Homo sapiens: one gene and its partners. The protein of the gene in region 3 purifies or fractionates together with the protein of the main gene of each other region. This does not show direct contact. Each region holds a gene or a part of one and is shown on either strand. Other genes may lie near its edges. The genes, in order: ISCA1, DICER1, ZMAT3 and SUPV3L1.

The links.
Region 1: the proteins of ZMAT3 (region 3) and ISCA1 purify together in Homo sapiens (affinity purification with mass spectrometry; 2 studies listed by BioGRID and IntAct, with this or other methods). This does not show direct contact.
Region 2: the proteins of ZMAT3 (region 3) and DICER1 purify together in Homo sapiens (affinity purification with mass spectrometry, with the first as the bait; one large-scale study listed by BioGRID). This does not show direct contact.
Region 4: the proteins of ZMAT3 (region 3) and SUPV3L1 purify together in Homo sapiens (affinity purification with mass spectrometry; 2 studies listed by BioGRID and IntAct, with this or other methods). This does not show direct contact.

What each region holds. Positions count from the first base shown.
Region 1 is NC_000009.12:86,271,822-86,276,306, forward strand, and holds part of ISCA1 (iron-sulfur cluster assembly 1 homolog, mitochondrial precursor), read right to left. Parts: intron 2,422-4,485; coding exon 2,368-2,421; intron 292-2,367; coding exon 186-291; intron 1-185. UniProt on the Homo sapiens protein: Involved in the maturation of mitochondrial 4Fe-4S proteins functioning late in the iron-sulfur cluster assembly pathway. Probably involved in the binding of an intermediate of Fe/S cluster assembly.
Region 2 is NC_000014.9:95,147,009-95,151,493, forward strand, and holds part of DICER1 (endoribonuclease Dicer), read right to left. Parts: intron 1-4,485. UniProt on the Homo sapiens protein: Double-stranded RNA (dsRNA) endoribonuclease playing a central role in short dsRNA-mediated post-transcriptional gene silencing.
Region 3 is NC_000003.12:179,065,013-179,069,497, forward strand, and holds part of ZMAT3 (zinc finger matrin-type protein 3), read right to left. Parts: intron 4,331-4,485; exon of another isoform or gene 4,012-4,330; intron 2,798-4,011; 5' UTR 2,741-2,797; coding exon 2,471-2,740; intron 1-2,470. UniProt on the Homo sapiens protein: Acts as a bona fide target gene of p53/TP53. May play a role in the TP53-dependent growth regulatory pathway. May contribute to TP53-mediated apoptosis by regulation of TP53 expression and translocation to the nucleus and nucleolus.
Region 4 is NC_000010.11:69,183,234-69,187,718, reverse strand, and holds part of SUPV3L1 (ATP-dependent RNA helicase SUPV3L1, mitochondrial), read right to left. Parts: intron 1,781-4,485; exon of another isoform or gene 1,733-1,780; coding exon 1,655-1,732; intron 1,277-1,654; coding exon 1,169-1,276; intron 326-1,168; coding exon of another isoform or gene 253-325; intron 78-252; coding exon 1-77. UniProt on the Homo sapiens protein: Major helicase player in mitochondrial RNA metabolism. Component of the mitochondrial degradosome (mtEXO) complex, that degrades 3' overhang double-stranded RNA with a 3'-to-5' directionality in an ATP-dependent manner.

The DNA of each region.
Region 1 (4,485 bases), on a different chromosome or scaffold from region 3:
CCACCCACATTCAGCATTGTGTATAAATCAGTTAATACATGAAATTCCATCAAACAACACCTACACACACAGTGAGCATTATTTACATAATTCCTGCTACTATCCTTATTTTTTACTTTGTGCTGTGCAAGGCTAATAATTTTAGGCAAAACAATGTGCCCAAAAAATGTTTGTTAAAAACTCACCATCTTGAATAACTTCTTCATCAGAATCTCCTTTTGTCTTTGTATATTCTAGAGTATAAGAAAGGCCATTACAGCCCCTGGTTCGGACACCAACTTTTACACCTACCTGAAAAAGAAGTGAAAATATAAACTTGGTTTTAAAGTAGTACAGATTAAACAATTATACTAATAAAGTGACAGTAGCCTCCTCGTACCAAAATGGACTTTCTCTTATTTTTTGTAGGACAGGGTCTCACTATGTAGCCCAGACTGGTCTCAAACTCGTGGACTCAAATAACGCTTCCACCTCGGCCTCTCAAAGCATTGGGATTACAAGGCAGGAGCCACCCCGTCCAGCCTGGGACTTTATTTAAAATGTCTTTGCTCTACCTTGTTCTGTGAGATATCCTCTGAATGTTTCCTTATGGTTAGGATTCACCAGGGTTCATAGTCCACCATCTGGCAATCCTACCTCTACATGGGATCTGAATTATAGTGCAGACTTGTGTACAGTCTCAAATACCAGAAAGCAAAAGACTGCAGTCAATACAGACAAAAGAAGTTTAAAAAAGTGACCAAACAGCACTTTAAAAGTATCAATGTTTACATTAATGCAATTTTCAAACAGTATCTACCTAAGTTCTCTGTCTTAGAGCTGAGCTGATTTTTCATTTAAATACAGTCATCCCTTAGTATGCATGGGAAATTGGTTCCAGGACTAACTGAGTATACAAAAATCTGCAGATACTCAAGTCCCTTATGCAAATGGCACTGCATTTGTATATAACCTATATACATCTTCCCCTGTACTTTAAATAACTTCTGGAGGACTTGAATACCTGTAACAATGTAATGCTACATAAACAGTTGTTATACTGTATTGTTTAGAGAATGAAAGTCTGTACATGTTTAATACAGATGCAACCTTCTATTTTTTTCCCAAATATTTCTGACCTATGGTTGATTGAATCCACGTATGCGGAACCCACAGATACGGAGAGGTGACTGTATACAGCAAAAGTATCATAAGTACTATTTCACCAGCAGTTCCTGATTCTACAAAGCCGAATTCTTGTTTCATTAGGCCAATTTGTAGTCTACTCATCGGTCTATCCAAATTGAATCAGAACACTGATATCCTTTGAAATTTAATAATTTTAAAAGGTAGGTTTGAGAACTTCCATTACATTGTAATGTAGTAGGTTAACAACAGAAACCAGAAATCACCCCACCGTCTAATTATTAAATATTGCAATCCATTACTTGAAATGATTTACAGCATTCCATCGGCAACTAACAATGTACAATTAAGATGATACACACATCCCTAACTCAACAATTCTGTATCTAGGAATGGATCCTATGTAGGTGGACTAAGCCATGCTTACAGTTCTAGAACAATGAGCCTGGCACACTGCAGACACTAAATAGTTGCTGAATGGTGTTTGCGGCAGCACTGAATGAAAACGACCCTTTAATATGGGGACTGGTTAAAGAACTCAAACTTGTTCAATGGAATATACTCTACATGCAGCCAAGAAAGGGAGGCAGATCATTACATAATGACATGGAAAGATCTTCAAGCCATTATTAAGGGTAAAAAGCAAAGTGTAACAAAAAAATTTATGGTAGGAAGAGATATACACAGGAATAACAAGCCCAGTCTAGGCCAGTGGTTGCCCTCAGGGAGACATTTTTGGTTGTGACAACCAAAGCTTTGTGGAATCAGGAACTGCTGGTGAAATAGTACTCACCATACTTTTACTCTATACAGTCACCTCTCCGTATCGGTGGGTTCCACATATGTGGATTCTTTGGTTGAGGCAAAGAGGGGGTACTACTGGTATCTAATGGACAGAGGCCACAGATGCTGTCAAACATTCTACAATCTGCCCTAAAGTGTCAACTGTGAGGAGGCTGAGAAAATCAGGTCTAGCCGCTTCAAATGTATACATTATCCCTGGAAGGATACCAAAGAGATTGCTTCTTGGAAGGAAGAATGACGACGAAGAGTCAGGTTGAAAGAATGACTTCCTTTTAGTTAAATACCCTTTTGTATTATTTGAATTTTTTAAAAATCCTGAGTATATTTTACATTTTAAATAAAAACCCCTAAATGAAATAATACTGTATATCATGGGATAAATTCATTCTGAAAATGCAGCTTCAGTTTTTTACTGAATAATTAACTGGTTTTACTTACATGCTCAGGCTTATCTTTAAGAAGTTGTTTTATCTTGTTTACTGCTGAAGGTGTCTGAAAAAAGAAAATGATGTTTTTAGCTACAAAACTTGTTATTCAAAGCCTCATATTTATCAGTCTTCGTAAGTCTGTCTTTAGCAAATTCATGTGACAAATTTATGTTCCATTCTTGCCAGGGTACCTTATGGACTTTATATAGAAACACATAAACTATACCTAATTCAAAATATCCTCTTTATTTAAAAAAAAAATCTGCTAGCAACATCCTTTTAATCTTGCTCCTCAGTCCAGGTTGGTTCCCTGTCCTTCTCTCTATGGTGCTATTCACTCACATTACAAATGCTATTTTTCTGGGCAGCATCTATTTTGTGCACCAACTCTATGCCCAGGAACCAGCATGTTGCCTACGACAAAGAGCCAATGAAGGAATCAAGTATCTCACTGGGAAGGCCAACCTTCAGGTGTTTTTCCTGTTGATTATTAATCCTACTGCTTTTTTTTTTCTTACTCACAATCCATTTCTAATCCATCAAAATGCATAGCTTGAGGAAACAGTGTTACCAGCATAAAATAACCCAGGGTGTGCTTCTTGCACCAGTCCCACCAAATGCTCACATAGATTTTTTTCAACGTGGATTAAACCAACATCTCAGGAGATCTAGATGAACAAAACTAAGCTAGTCAATGACAGAAATAAGAACAAGGAGGAGCTGTTTCCCAGAGAAATGCTGTTTTAACATAGCTCAGCGGGCCTCAAAATGAGAAAAACATCACAGTTTGTGTGAAATAGGTCGGTGTTGCCAACCCCACTTCTTTGGGAAGGAGACTGTTCCCCGACATTCCTGGCCCACTTCCTAGCTGTGCCTCCAGGGCAGTCACCCTAAGTGGCTTCTCTGACTTCTATTCCCTTACTGGTGAAACAGGGATAACAGTTCCTCCTCCTCCTGATTCTTGTGAGGATTAAATATTTAAACTCATGGAAAGCATTCAGGACAGTGCCAGGCACAAAAATACCAAGTATTATTATGATTATGAGAGTACATCATAATGAAGACATTATGTGCGTCCTTCCTACTTTATCAGCTCCTCTAGCTGGCAGTGCTCTGCAGGCCCTCCAGTCCCTTGTACTGACATTTTACTGTACAGTAAAGTCTTTGAGACTGCTTGTGAAGTCTCAAAGTCTGGATATTACGACCTAAGACTTGGTAGTAAACTGAGGCCAGGACTGACACCTGGAAGAGCCAGCCCAATGGATGGCCCTAGAGTGTGCTCTCCTGCCCTGTCGGGGTTGGGGCTCAGCTAGATGAGCATGCTTAAACACAGTACAGACCCAGTTTAGAAGGGCATGAAAGCAATTTGGAATGTGAAGACCAACATGTCTTAAACATTTTAAATAGAAAACAATGCACTGCACTTAAAAACGTGAATGTTGTTTAGTAAAACTTTTAATTCAGTTATTAATATATAGTATCTGTGTATATACATTTCTTATTACATGTCACTGTAAAAAAACAAACCACTACCAGTAGGTGGGCCTCTAAAGGCCCATGGTTTCCCATGGTTCTGTCAGAAAAGGAGGCATGCAGTCCTCCAACGCAGGAAGTAGCACACAGGGTGGAAGGAGAAAACAGGGAAGAGCAGGATTATGGTTTTGTTTTTGTTTTTTGAGTCACAGAATACCAACTTTAAATAGTTACAGAAATAGTTATTATTTTTTAAAGTGCTCATTACCCTTCTAAAGCAGTGGTCCCAAATGTTTTTGGCATCAAGGACTGGTTTCGTGGAAGACAATTTTTCCACGGATAAGGGGAATGGTTTCTGAATGATTCAAATGCATTACATTTATTGTGCACTTTATTTCTATTATTACATTGTAATATATAATGAAATAATTATATAACTCATCAAAATATACAATCAGTGGGAGCCCTGAGCTTGTTTTTCTGCAACTAGATGGCCCCATCTAGGGGTGATGAGAGACAGTGACAGATCATCAGGCATCATTCTCATAAGGAGTGCACAAACTAGCCCCTCACACCTGCAGTTCAGACTAGGGTTTGTGCTCCTATGAGAATCTAATGCCCCTGATGATCTGACAGGAGGTGGAGCTCGCTTAGG
Region 2 (4,485 bases), on a different chromosome or scaffold from region 3:
TGATGAATTACTTGGATGAGTATTTTTCCTTTAAACTTTTCAGCATTTTAAATTTCCTACAACTTGAACACACAGAATTGGGAATTGGAAAACAAACTTTCAAACTGTGGATGATTTGTGTGACGATAAGCTAGAGACATACAATTCTGTTTTAGGTATTGAAAACATCCTCCCAGCCGTGTGCAGTGGTTCACACCCATAATCCCAGCAATTTGGGAGGCCAAGGTGGGCAGATCACGTGAGCCCAGGAATTCTGAGACCAACCTGGGAAACATGGCAAAACCCCATCTCTACTAAAAATATAAAAATTAGCCAGGTGTGGTGGCATGTGCCTGTAGTCCCAACTCCTCAGGAGGCTGAGGCGGAAGAATCACCTGAGCCTGGGGGGCTGCAGTGAGCCATGATCACACCACTGCACTCCAGAGTAAGACCCTGTCTCTAGAATGAATGAATTAATGAGTAAAAACCTCCCCCGTTAAGGCACAAAATGTGGTAACATTTACCTGAATATCTGAGTGGGAAAAAACACACACAAACTGTTTTTCCTTTGTTCTCACACACCACATAAAATTTCTGTGACCAAATGTGTGGGGTTTCTCCCCAACAACAAGCAAGCCATCAATTCTGCAGCGGACACCAGCTGGGTGTCTTCTATTAATGACTGAATTCCAACATTATCTACCTGGAGATAGCATCAGATCCCACAGGTTGAGGGCTCCAGTCCTCAAGACCTCCCCCACCCTTCCGTGTCAATTGCAAACCTCAGGTTATTTTTTGCCCGTGCTCCCGACCAATCAGTTAACTGGGGTTCCCACAACGCCCTCCTGGGATTTAACTTGCTAGACCAGCTCACAGTCCTTGGGGAAAAACTTACTTATGTTTACCAGTTTATTATAAAGGATATTACAGGCTGGGTGCAGTGGCACACGCCTGTAATCCTAGCACTTTGGAAGGCCAAGATGGGAGGATCGCTTGAGGCCAGCAGTTCGAGACCGGCCTGGTCAACACAGCGAGAGTCCATCTCAATAAAAATAAGTAAATTAATTAGGTAAAGGATATTACAAAGATCCAGATGAAGACATGCACAGGGTTAGGTATGGAGAAGGGGTATAGAGCTTCCAAGCCCTCCCAGAGCAAACTGCCCTCCAGGAACCTCCATGTGTTCAACTATCCAGAAGCTTTCCAAACTCTGTCCTTCAGGGTTTTTATGAAGACTCATTACCTGGGCATGATTAACCTTCAGCCCCTCTTCCCTCCCCAGAGGTTGGAGGGTGGGTCTGAGTCCAAACCTCTAATCATGCCTTAGTCTTCCCAGTAACCAGCCCCCATTTTGAAGCTACCAGGAGCTACCGGCCACCAGTCGATCATTAGCATACAAAAACACATCACTTTGGAGATTCTAAGGATTTCAAGCCTTGTATGCCTAAGAATAGGGTAGAGGACAGACCAAATATATATTTTACAGTATCATAGTACCTACAATTTAAACCACAAATTCATTAGCCTTCTTTTCATGCATTACTGTATCTGAACCAAATAAATTTCTGGGTTTCTCTAAATCTCTAACATAAATATGTTATGTTTAGATTTCAATATAATCATGCCTAAAATTAGATTGGTCCAAAATTGAAGTGGAACACAGGTCAAATACCATCTTAACAAATTCCACCCATCAAAGATCTCCATATAAGAAGTGTCTCCAGGCTGCAAGCCAAAGGTCCGCTTACTTCTTGGAGTACTTCTCAGAAAGATGACATTTCAACACATCAAAACAGCACAGATACCCACCCCTCCCCTTCAAGTTACCTATAATGACATTTGTCCTACAGTTTTGTTTCAAGAGACATAAATACTTAACACATCACTAGCTTTCAAGGTGAGTTTTAAGGTTCATATTTGATTCCAAGTTTCTGTACTTTACTCTTTTTTTTTATTTTTTATTTGGAGACAGGGTCTCACTCTGTCTATTTACAGGCACCATCAGAGCACATTACAGCCTTGAACTCCTGGGCTCAAGTGATCCTGCCATCTCAGCCTCCTGAGCAGCTGAGACTACAGGCACATACTTTACTCTTAACACTGTGCAACGAGTGCTAGAATTTTATTCAATTCACGACTACCCTCTACCTTTACACCAAGAAAGAGCATCCATTGGGAAAAAGGAGCCACAATTTTCTCTTTGTCAAGCTGTTTTAAGATATATAACATGAATACTTAAATACTAAAGGGAGGTCAATCCAGAGACAAAATGAACATAAGAGACTACTGAGTTAAGATGGATGTTTATTGAGACAGGAAAGCAAATATATTAAAAGGTCCAGGCAAGAGTGTGACGCACTACATCATCATAGCTTCTGCGCAACATCTCATGTTATCTGCCTTTCCCGTAACACCAAAACAAGTGTGTACCAACAGAGTTCGCCACCTCTCACGAACCCCACCCCACAACTTTCCCTAAAAACCTCTATCACTTTAGTCCCCTCCCCTCTCATTTAGCACACATGGGCTAGCTACAACACCCAAATCATCACGGGCTTCATTATATTACTGCCCCATATATTAGCTGTTATTGCCATCTCCCTCAAGAGTATTAAGATCTTTGAAAGATAATCTCATACTATACTCACATTCATATTACATAGTTCATGATTTGTTTGATTTTCACGTTACTGTAAATTTGTAATGACTAGGTAGTTTGGAATGTAGGAAAGTAAATATCCATGAATAATTTTTTATTAATTAATTCGATGTTGAGAATAAGCTTTATTGATCTTAACTATTGAATTAAAGCAGCTTTTTATAGGTCAAATATAAAACTCAAATTAGACACTTTTAAATTAAAAGACTTTAAACAACCCAAATTATTTCAACAAGCTTAACATCCTCGATCTTGGCACCCAAGTCCAAAAGAATAATTCGAGGCTAACTAGAAACTGTCAAAGCTAGAGAGGTATCAGTTAGTGCAATGATAATTTTGGTATCATCTGACTATACCCATCCTAGTTTTCTCAGTTAACTTCCAACCACTACAAAATTCTCTTCCATATTAATGCAAACTAATCTGACTCCAACCTTGAAGATGTTTCAGAAACAATTTTAAAGTTCTTAAAGTTACAGGTGCAACTGGGAAAACCCAACTCAAGACAGTCTTATTTCTCAACTTAGTTTCTCATTTTACAAACTGTATTTTGTAGGCCGGGCACGGTGGCTCATGCCTGCAATCCCAGCACTTTGGGAGGCAGAGACAGGTGAATCACTTGAGGTCAGGAGTTCGAGACCAGCTTGGCTAACATGGTGAAACCCCGTCTCCACTTAAAAAATACAAAAATTAGCTCAATATAGTGGCTTGCACCTGTAGTCCCAGCTACTCAGGAGGCTGACACAGGAGAATCGCTTGAACCCAGGAGCCAGAGGTTGCAGTAAGCTAAGATCACGCCACTGCACCCCAGCCTGAGAGACAGAGCAAGACTCAGCATTAACAACAACAAAAAAGAAATCGTATTTTGTTAGGTTTAAAATTCAGGCGAAACTCTACTGAATGTCAACTAATAAATGTAGAAGGAATGACAGAAAAGTCACCATTTTTAACCATCACATTAGTGATTGAAGCAAGGATCATTAATGGATGCTAAAACCATTGGGTGAAGGTTACTAAAGAATATTTACATAGCCTGAAAGCTTTTCTGCAGATTACCTACTAATTACAAATGAAAACTAGTATTTTTATTCAGTGGAAAAACCAGATAGATACCCCTTTAATCCAAGTGACAAAGCTAAGATCACCAGTATTAGGACAAACTGACAACACATACCTAATGTAGTTTTCCTACTGAAAGTACAAAACTTGAATCTATTTTTGCCGGGGGAAAGAGGGGAACAGAGTCTCGCTCTGTTGCCCAGACTGGAGTGCAGTGGCACAATTATAGCTCACTGCTACCTCAAACTCTTAGGTTCTAGAGATCCTCCTGCCTTGGCCTCCTAAAGTGCTGAGATTACAGGAGTGAGCCACTGTGCCCAGCTGAAACCTGAATCTAATCATAAGGAAACATAAAACCTAACTTGAGGTTTATTTTACAAAACACTTGGCTTTATACACTGAATTGAAGTATGATTTCAAGGATGATGTGTTAATTCATGCATAGCAGATGAAGAATGTGTTATTTAGGGAAAGTTAAGAGACGTTTAAGGCACTGTTACATTTGGTATCACTACTACAGAGACCAACTAAGATAGCTGAACCAGTATAGATAATCCTCCTCGAAAACTTGTCTGTAAAATATTGTTCTCAAGCCCTCTTTTCCTTCATCCTCCATTATATTACTAGACCATACATTTCAATATTGATAATTTGGGGGCTCACAATATAATCTAATCACATTAAGACTATTGCATGTTAAAATTTTCTCTAATACACGTATTTAAAAGAAAAATATTACATTAATTTTATCAAATGCTAGTTATGTACCATGAGAGTTTAAGAAACTC
Region 3 (4,485 bases):
CTTTGCCTTAGTTGTCTGTTAAAACCTTCTCTCTTTAAGAGTTACCAATAACATCAGTCTCATTCGAATCTTTGCTTCTGAAGTCTTAGCAATATACTTTATTATACCCAAACTTTTCATTTTCTGTAAGCTCCTACTTTCTGATTACTTGCTTGCCTCTTTTCTTTCCCATCTTTACCCTGGTTTTTAGCTGCTTAAATTGTCCCATTACATCCTGTTCTCCTTCAACCTTTCCACTTAAAAATTCTGATTTTTGAGAAATTTACCTAAATTGTATTTCCCTTTTCTTATATTTTCTAATTTATTTATTCACTGTATCACTGAGGAAACTGAAATTAAGTATAATTACTAATCTTGTCAACTACATAGTTTAGAACATACGCAAAAATGTAAAATAAAAGAAAAAAACAAATGTTGATTCTGCTTATCTAGTTTTAGCCTTATAATCCAAAGACCTTGCATCAAACTGAATCTTCTCTATGTATCATCAGTAGCACCTTTCAAAGTCCATGAAGTCAAAAAGTTTTATTAGGAGAAAAAAAGAAATAAGGTATATGTATAATCCATGGACATGTTAAAATTACACACTGCCCGAGAGTTTTCCCTCATAAAAGTAAACAACTCTTCCTTAAAAGGGAATTATAGGCTGGGTGCGGTAGGTCACTCACGCCTGTAATCCCAGCGCTTTGGGAGGCTGAATCTAGCCAACATGGCAAACCTCCATCTCTACCAAAAATACAAAAATTAGCTGGGTGTGCTGGTGTGTGCCTGTAATCCCAGCTACTCGAGAGGGTGAGGCATGAGAATCGCTTGAACCCCGGAGACAGGGGCTGCAGTGAGCCAAGATCGCGCCACTGCACTCCAGCCTGGGCAACAGAGCGAGACTCTGTCTCAAAAAAAAATAAATAAATAAAGATAATTATATATGTGTATAGCATACAAGTGGGTTTGCCCCCAAGTTAATGATTTGTTAGGGGCTTTATATGGCTAATAATTAAACCTTTAGAACCCTGGCTTCTTTTTTCAAAGTGAGTCTTAGGCTATAAAACTGAACATTCCGTAGGAATAAATGAAGAAAGCTAATACAGTCTTGGAGTTGAGATTAATCATGCTAACAGACTCTGCTTGAATGGTAAAGACAGGCAAAGGAAGACCCTGTATCAAACAACTGTACTGGACAGCAAGGTGATGAGAGTACGTACTGGGGAAAGGGGGAAAACGTAAAAATAAAACCAGAAGAGGCCTTTAGGAACCAATGATGACACATGTCAAGAGCTGCGAGATATAATTAACTCAACTCTCTGCACCTGAGGGCAAAACAAAACCACATAATGGGAACTTAAAGGAGGCAACATATTATGTCTTCCCCTAAATACCAGAGAAAACAATTGACCATCAAAATACTTCCGACATACAATCAAAAAGCAACACAATAATCAGTCTTTGGGATCAAAACAAAACAGAAAAGACTTAACACCCACAGTAAACAAAGTGGAGAAAGTTATAGTGCACAACAGAAGAAACACCTGTGTAACAGTCTTCTACCATACTCTCTTATTACTAGAGATTTTCAAGCAGATAATAAATAATCAAATCAGTGATGACCCGGGAAGACATCATTCACTGGGTTTTGTCCTTGATTATCTCCCAGGTCTCTTTTCTCCAAAAAAGGAAATTATTTAACTTTATACAGACAAATGTCTAGAATAAAAAGAAATATTGTACCGTCTCTTGCTAACCAAAGTTTAATTTTCCATTTGTTCTTAGGTAATATTACCCTTTAAAATGGTCCTTTCCACTAGCTATTCAACATGGAGGTGAAAGCTTTAAATCTTAAAAACCAGTATTAGTTTACGCTAATGGGCTAAAATAAATCAGAGTATGTTTATTATGAATGAAGGATAGGGCTCAATATTGCAATGTCATTTTATTCTCACCACAAAAAGATACCTGTGTTTTCCTTACCAGTGATAGGATATATAAGAGTTAGAAGTCAAAAATGGAAAGCATAAGAGTCATGCACAGAGGTCACCTCGAAATGATGCAAATTATATTAGCTTCTAAACAATTTTACACTGAATTGAGTTCGGTACATCATGGGTTTTTTTGTTTGTCTGAGACAAAGTCTCGCTCTGTCACCCAGGCTGGTAAATAGTGGTTTAAATACTTGTTCTTCTTAAGACTACAGGTTCAGATGCCAGCATAGATCATTTACATTTGCCTACAAAGACTGGTAAGCTATCGCATGCCACACAGCTTAGTGTAACAGGTTGAGATCCAGTCTACAAAAAGTGATACTTATTTTTAAAGTAAAAACATAAGGCTTTTAATCAAACAAATTCATAGTTAGTTGTTCTCTAAGCCATCTTGGTATTCCAGGCACAGTCATATCTGGAGAGACAACTGCTAAATAGCCAGAGCCCTGAAATGTTCACCCTACTCAATGCCTGGTTTTCTTTTCTCCCTTTACCTGATAATGAGCCTGGGCTTGCTGTGCAGAGTTCAAGGTGACATTGCAGAGTTTGCAGTACAGGGGCTTACATAGCTCCTCCAGGGCACAGTCTTGCTCCCCTCCCTTCGATAACTCTTCTTCCCCTGCAAGAGGCAAGGAAGCCTCCTGCCCAAAAGGCTTCTGTGGTGGAAGCTGCAAGGTTCCTGTAGACCTGGTGGCCACTGACATAGGAGGCGAGGGTGAGGGCTGCTTAGGTGGAGGAAGCACGGCGTGTTGCAAGAGGATCATTGGGTAGGGAAGCCTGGGGCATAATCCAGTGGGTGATGAGAAGCAAGGTCTTCAAATCTGAATCAACAGCAAAAAAACAGAAAAAAAAACTCACTTGAAAATCAGACTTCAGCAAGATAACATGTAAATGACAACATAATCTGACCCTTTCTTCTACTTCTCCAAACCCATCTTTGGGACTTCTTTCCTTTGGCCTCATTTAGCAGACTTCCCCTGCCTGTTAATTCATGTTAACACGGTGCTCTTCCACTGAGAATGGCTTTATAGATTTGGCTTTATTTTGCTTGGCACAGTTCCAACTGCTATCCCTTTGGCCCGTGAACATTAACAGCATTGCATCCACGGCTAAATCTAAAAGTCACATGGCTGAAATGGACATCAAATGTCACCTAGTCCAGACCCCTTCCCTCAGGCACACTTACACTTAAACACTCTTAATGATAATCATGCACAGACAAAAACACCACGAGCTGTCCAGGTGTGGTGGCTCACGCCTGTAATCCCAGCATTTTGGGAGGCCAAGGTGGGCAGATCACCTGAGGTCAGGAGTTCGAGACCAGCCTGTTCAAGACAACATGGTGAAACCCCGTCTCTACTAAAAATACAAAAATTAGCCAGGTGTGGTGGCGAGTGCCTGTAATCCCAGCTACTCAGGAGGCTGAGGCAGGAGAATCGCTTGAACCGGGGAGGCAGAGGTGGTCGTGAGCCGAGATCGTGCCATTGCACTCCAGCCTGGGTGACAGAGCAAGACTGTGACTCAAAAAAAAAAAAGACCACCAGCTAAAAATCTTAGCAAACATATCTTCCAACCAACCAATATCAAAAAGAGTGTATAAAAGAATATCATCTTGCAGAATTCTTAAAGCACTTATAGAACTAGCTAAAATTTCAGGGAACTCTAGGAGTAGCCTAAAGTATGACAGAAATAAATAAAATATGTTCCTTCTGATCAACTAGCAATATTTAAGTAGTTGAGCAAATGTATAGCAGAGGTGGCAAACAGCCTGTGGGCCACATACAGCCACAGATGTGCTGTTTGGAATATACAGTTTTGTTTTCATTTTTTTAAGTCGAATTAGTTGTTAGCATTTAAAAATCAAGAGATTCATGGCTTCTCTTGAAAAAGGATGATCTGGCATCACTTGGCCCACATTCCTATATGGGACGCAATTAGCTAGTTAGTGCTCAGAGGCACTGTGCCCTCTAGCGAGGCCTGCCTTCTCTGGGACACCTCAGTCCCCACTCAGCTGCTGCCTGTACTTGTTACTTGCCTGTTCTCTGTGAGCTCTTGAGTTTACAGCCCTGCCTCATACAGCCTTAGATTATATTCATCAGCCCCTGTAAAACCCAAATTTTTCCTCCTTCTCTAGGTAAATTACCTACACAAAATAAGGTATCAAGGAAATGTCCAATGGAGTAATGGATCACACCACCATAAGCCACAGTATAATTCCAGTTCCTCAATCTTGAGGCTATTTCCCTCCTCCTTCTTAACAAATAACTGATAGTCTCTATTATAATTCCCTCAGAAAAGACCCAAAATGTTCCTCTCCCTCTTCAATCTTTATCCATAATGTCTCCTGCCTCCCCCCCAGATGGCGCCGTCTAACCCTGAGTGTCTCAAAATGAACCACAGTACACCCTTTGAGTTCCCAAGATTCTAATTAACCCAAATTAGAATCCTTATTTCAAAATCCACAATTCCCTCCACTCTCTCAATACAGTATTATTAAAACCTCTTCTCT
Region 4 (4,485 bases), on a different chromosome or scaffold from region 3:
ATCATCCTTACAGTCCAACACAGGAAATATTTGTTTGGCATGTCTCAAGAAAAATGGGAATAAATCATCCGCATGAGCTGGAAAATAAAACACTGTATTAACATGTGCAATCTACATAAAATTCGTAACTAAATTTAGTGAAATCTTTTTTCTTAACAAGCTAAGTTGCGGGGGCACTGCCAGGGTAAAAAGAAAAGTCCTCTCTGGGCACAGTAGCTCACGTCAACAATCCCACCACTTTGGAAAGCTGACCTGGAAGGATGGCTTGAGCCCAGGAGGTTGAGGCTACACACTGAGCTGAGACTGAGCCACTGCACTCCAGAGCCTGGGTGACAGAGTGAGACCGTGTCACAAAAAAAAAAAAAAAAAAAAAAAAAGGAAGAAAAGAAAAAAAAAAGTAGAAAAGTCCTGAGGTTACAGGCCTTATCCTTTTCTGGGATCCTGTTTTGTCTTACTTTTTCCTTTTAATTTATATTTTCAGGAAATTGGCTAGCAACCACCACGTCCTACTCCTTTAGTACAAACAGGCAAAGATTAGCATTGGCAAAAGTTAAATTAAAAATAAAGAACCTAGACATGTACATTACAGAGATGAAGGCGCAAACATTTTTTAAACTTCGAAAACCACAGACAGGCAAAAACATGTGTTTGTTCCTCAGCAAGAATTCTCCACATCTTAGTGGCTCTGAGAGGAGGCTGGGGCATGTCCCATTCTGCGTTGTATCCTCAGTGCTGGGCACAAGGTACAGGTCTAAGAGTCAAATACATAACCAAAGCCAAACTGCCTGTGGGAATGAAACTATGATATTTTGACTTTTTTTTTTTCTTTTATAGCAAGAACTTTGTCCTGATATGAGGGAGAAGGAAGCCAGTGGCAAAAACAGATGGAATCTGCTATGCACTAATTCCAACTTGTGTGAGAGCTTATTTCACTGGGCCCCAGTCTTCCTCCAGTCTAAGACATATGGGTGATGTAATAACCAGCTCAGGGACCCAATATAAAAGCAAACAACCTAGAAGTCATCCTGTGAAAGCACTGAATTATTTACAGAGGATGTTACCAGACCCACTCTAAACCAAATAAGCCCTTCTAGAGAAATGAGCATGAAGTATGAGAAGAAATAGAAGGTATGTTCAATAGGATTTTAAAAAGTCTCTAAACACTTGCCTGCACCGAAGCAAATATCATTCAAAACAATGTGAATGTCCACATCCAGGGAATGAGACTGCATAATATAATTTCTAAAGCTTATGAAAGCTTGGTGGAAGAGACGAGCTGTAGAAACACAAAATGAAAAGATGTAAGGTGTAGTTCTCATTTTAAAAAGCACACAGACACACCACACCAAACTCATCAAAGAGTCTTTTTTTTTCTTTTTTTTTTTTTTTTTTTGGCAGTACAGCTGGTTTATTATGATCTGGGCTAAAACTGAAGTCCTAGCACAGCATGAAGGAAGGCCGCAGCTGCAGCTCCTCTGCCGTGCAGTATGGCTCACCAGGTGAGCCTCGCCAGTCTCCCACTCAGCCAGAAGCAAAGAGCAGGGACGTGTCTCCAGACTACAACAGCCAGGTCACATGAGGGGTCGTACAGTCCTGACCAAGCTGTACCGTAAGAGGTAATAAAATACCTCTATGAAGATGTTTTGGGCCTTACCATCAAGTCCATAATCAGCACCCAGTTTCTGAATTTCTTTCCTCTTGTAAAATTTGTCTAAGACCTTCTTTACTTCATCTAGAAGAGAGATGTCAAAATTTAACGTTTCCTTATCTTAGATAAATGCTGAAAAAAAGCAAAAGAAACTTGAAGCAATAACACTAAAGGCAGCAGTCTAATGAGTGTTGCAAGAACTAGAAGGTTTTAGTCGATCCTTCTTTATGAATTCATATGCGATGGGAGTGTTAAGAAAAATGATCGAGTTGGCCGGGCACGGTGGCTCACGCCTGTAATCCCAGCACTTTGGGAGGCTGAGGTGGGCGGATCACGAGGTCAGGAGATAGAGACCATCCTGGCTAACATGGTGAAACCCCGTCTCTACTAAAAATACAAAAATTAGCTGGGCCTGTTATTGGGCGCCTGTAGTCCCAGCTACCCAGGAGGCTGAGGCAGGAGAATGGCATGAACCCGGGAGGCGGAGCTTGCAGTGAGCCGAGATGGGCCCACTGCACTCCAGCCTAGGAGACAGAGCGAGTCTCCGTCTCAAAAAAAAAAAAAAAGAGAAAAATGATCGAGTCAAATAATGCAGCACCCTGTTATACCATAGAGGAATGAGCAATGCACTCTGGGATGAGAGGCAGCCTCAAGCCTTCACCAGGCCACTTATAGGTAGAGAGCCACACTGTCATTCACTTATAACGATTCTGCACATCCAAACAGTGAGCAGCTAAAACACATCCAGAAAGACAACCAATATAGCAAGGACCAGATCCTCATGCTTAAGGAAGCCACGCTGATGTTAAGTTTGAGGATGATGATTTCAGGGATAAAAGATTACACTTGTTTTGTGCTAGATGGCATAACTAAAGTCAGTGGGAGCAGATTTCAGTGGAATTTATACAAGAACTTCCTAACAATTAGAACAGTGAAAAGTGAGAGCTCCTTGCCAATGGAATTACTCAAGCAAGGGTTAGATGACTGTCAAGGGTGACGGCAGAGAAATGTCTATGCTATTGGGAGATAACATGCCACTATGAATCAATAATCTTAGAGGTAAAAGTATTTTAAACTAATCAAGCTGAGATTGTATTATGGTTGTATATGTTAAAATACTACAGCATTATTCAATAAACATTTTACTGACTCAGTCACACACTATGTATTTCTAGGAGGAGAAGCCACAATGAGGACACAGCCTTTACCCATGAAATTCAGAAAGGCCAAGTGACCTGTATTTTTACCTTTCACAAATGTGCCAACCACATTTTCACACAGTCCAACACACACAACACTCATTGAAGAAATCAAGCCTGAACAAAGCATTCCACTAATAAAACTGTTTGACAGAATGAGGAAATTTCAGAATCACTAGATCTGCCCACAATTAAATATGAGATACACATACACACACAGTGTGTGTGTGTGTGTGTGTGTGTGTGTGTGTGTGTATTTATATTTCAGATCACAGGCAGATTTCTGGGTCTCTGTTACTTTGTGCCGGGTAGGAACAACAGTTTCTTTTTTTCTTGGAGACAGTGTTTCACTCTTGTTGCCCAGGCTGGAGGGCAATGGCGCGATCTCAGCTCACTGCAACCTCCGCCTTTCGGGCTCAAGAGATTCTCCTGCCTCAGCCTCCCAAGTAGCTGGGATTACAGGCATGCATCACCATGCACCATGCCCGACTAATTTTGTATTTTTAGTAGAGACAGGGTTTCTCCATGTTGGTCAGGCCGGTCTCGAACTCCTGACCTCAGGTGATCTGCCAGCCTCAGCCTCCCAAAGTGCTGGGATTACAGGCGTGAGCCACTGCACCTGGCCAACAGTTTCTTGGTATCAAGGGTAGAAAAACCAATGACAAATAAAAGATTGGAAAAAGGCACATGCCATCATTGCTTGGGAAAATTCTGCTGACCTATAAACTCGATACAAACTAAAGACAGATCACATTTATTTAGAATTAACCTATTTTCTGTGACTAATACTACGGTGTTATATAAGATTCATGCTGCTTTACTCAAATTAAAATGCTTCCAAAATGTGAAATTTCTCATTATGCTAAGTAAAAGAAACCAGTTACAAAAGACCAATACTATATGACACTATAAATATGAAATACACAAAACAGGCAAATCAACAGACAGAATGTGGATTAGTGGTTATCTGGAGCTAAAAAAAAAAAAAAGACACTGGGGACTGGGGAACTAGAGAGTGACTTGCTAACAGATATCAGGTTTCTTTTTAGGGTGATAAAAATGTTCTAAAATGAAATTATGGTGATGATTGTACAATCCTGCAAATACACTAAAACCCAGTGAATTATACACTTTTAAAGGGTGAGCTTTCTAGTATGTAAATTAAAATTGTATCTTTCTTTTTTTATTTGAGACAGGGTCTCACTCTTGTCACCCAGGCTGGAGTGTGGTGGTGCAATCTCGGCTCACTGCAACCTCTACTACTACCCAAGCTCAAGCAACCCTCCCACCTCAGCCTCCCAAGTAGCTGGAACTACAGGCACACACCATCATGCCTGGCTAATTTCTGTATTTTTTGTAGAGATGGAGTTTTGCCATGTTGCCCAAGCTCGTCTTGAGCTCCTGGGCTCAAGCGATCCACCCTCCTGGGCCTCCCAAAGTGCTGGGATTGCAGGCACGAGACACTGCGCCCAGCCTAGTCTTTTTAAAAGAACATTCTGACTGCAGGTAGAGAATAGAATGAAGGGATCAAAGGCATATGAGGAGACACATAAGGGGCTATATGTGCAGTCCAGTCAAAAGATGGAAGCTGGCAATTTAGACTAAGCTGGTTGCAGTGGAGAATGAGGGAAATGAATG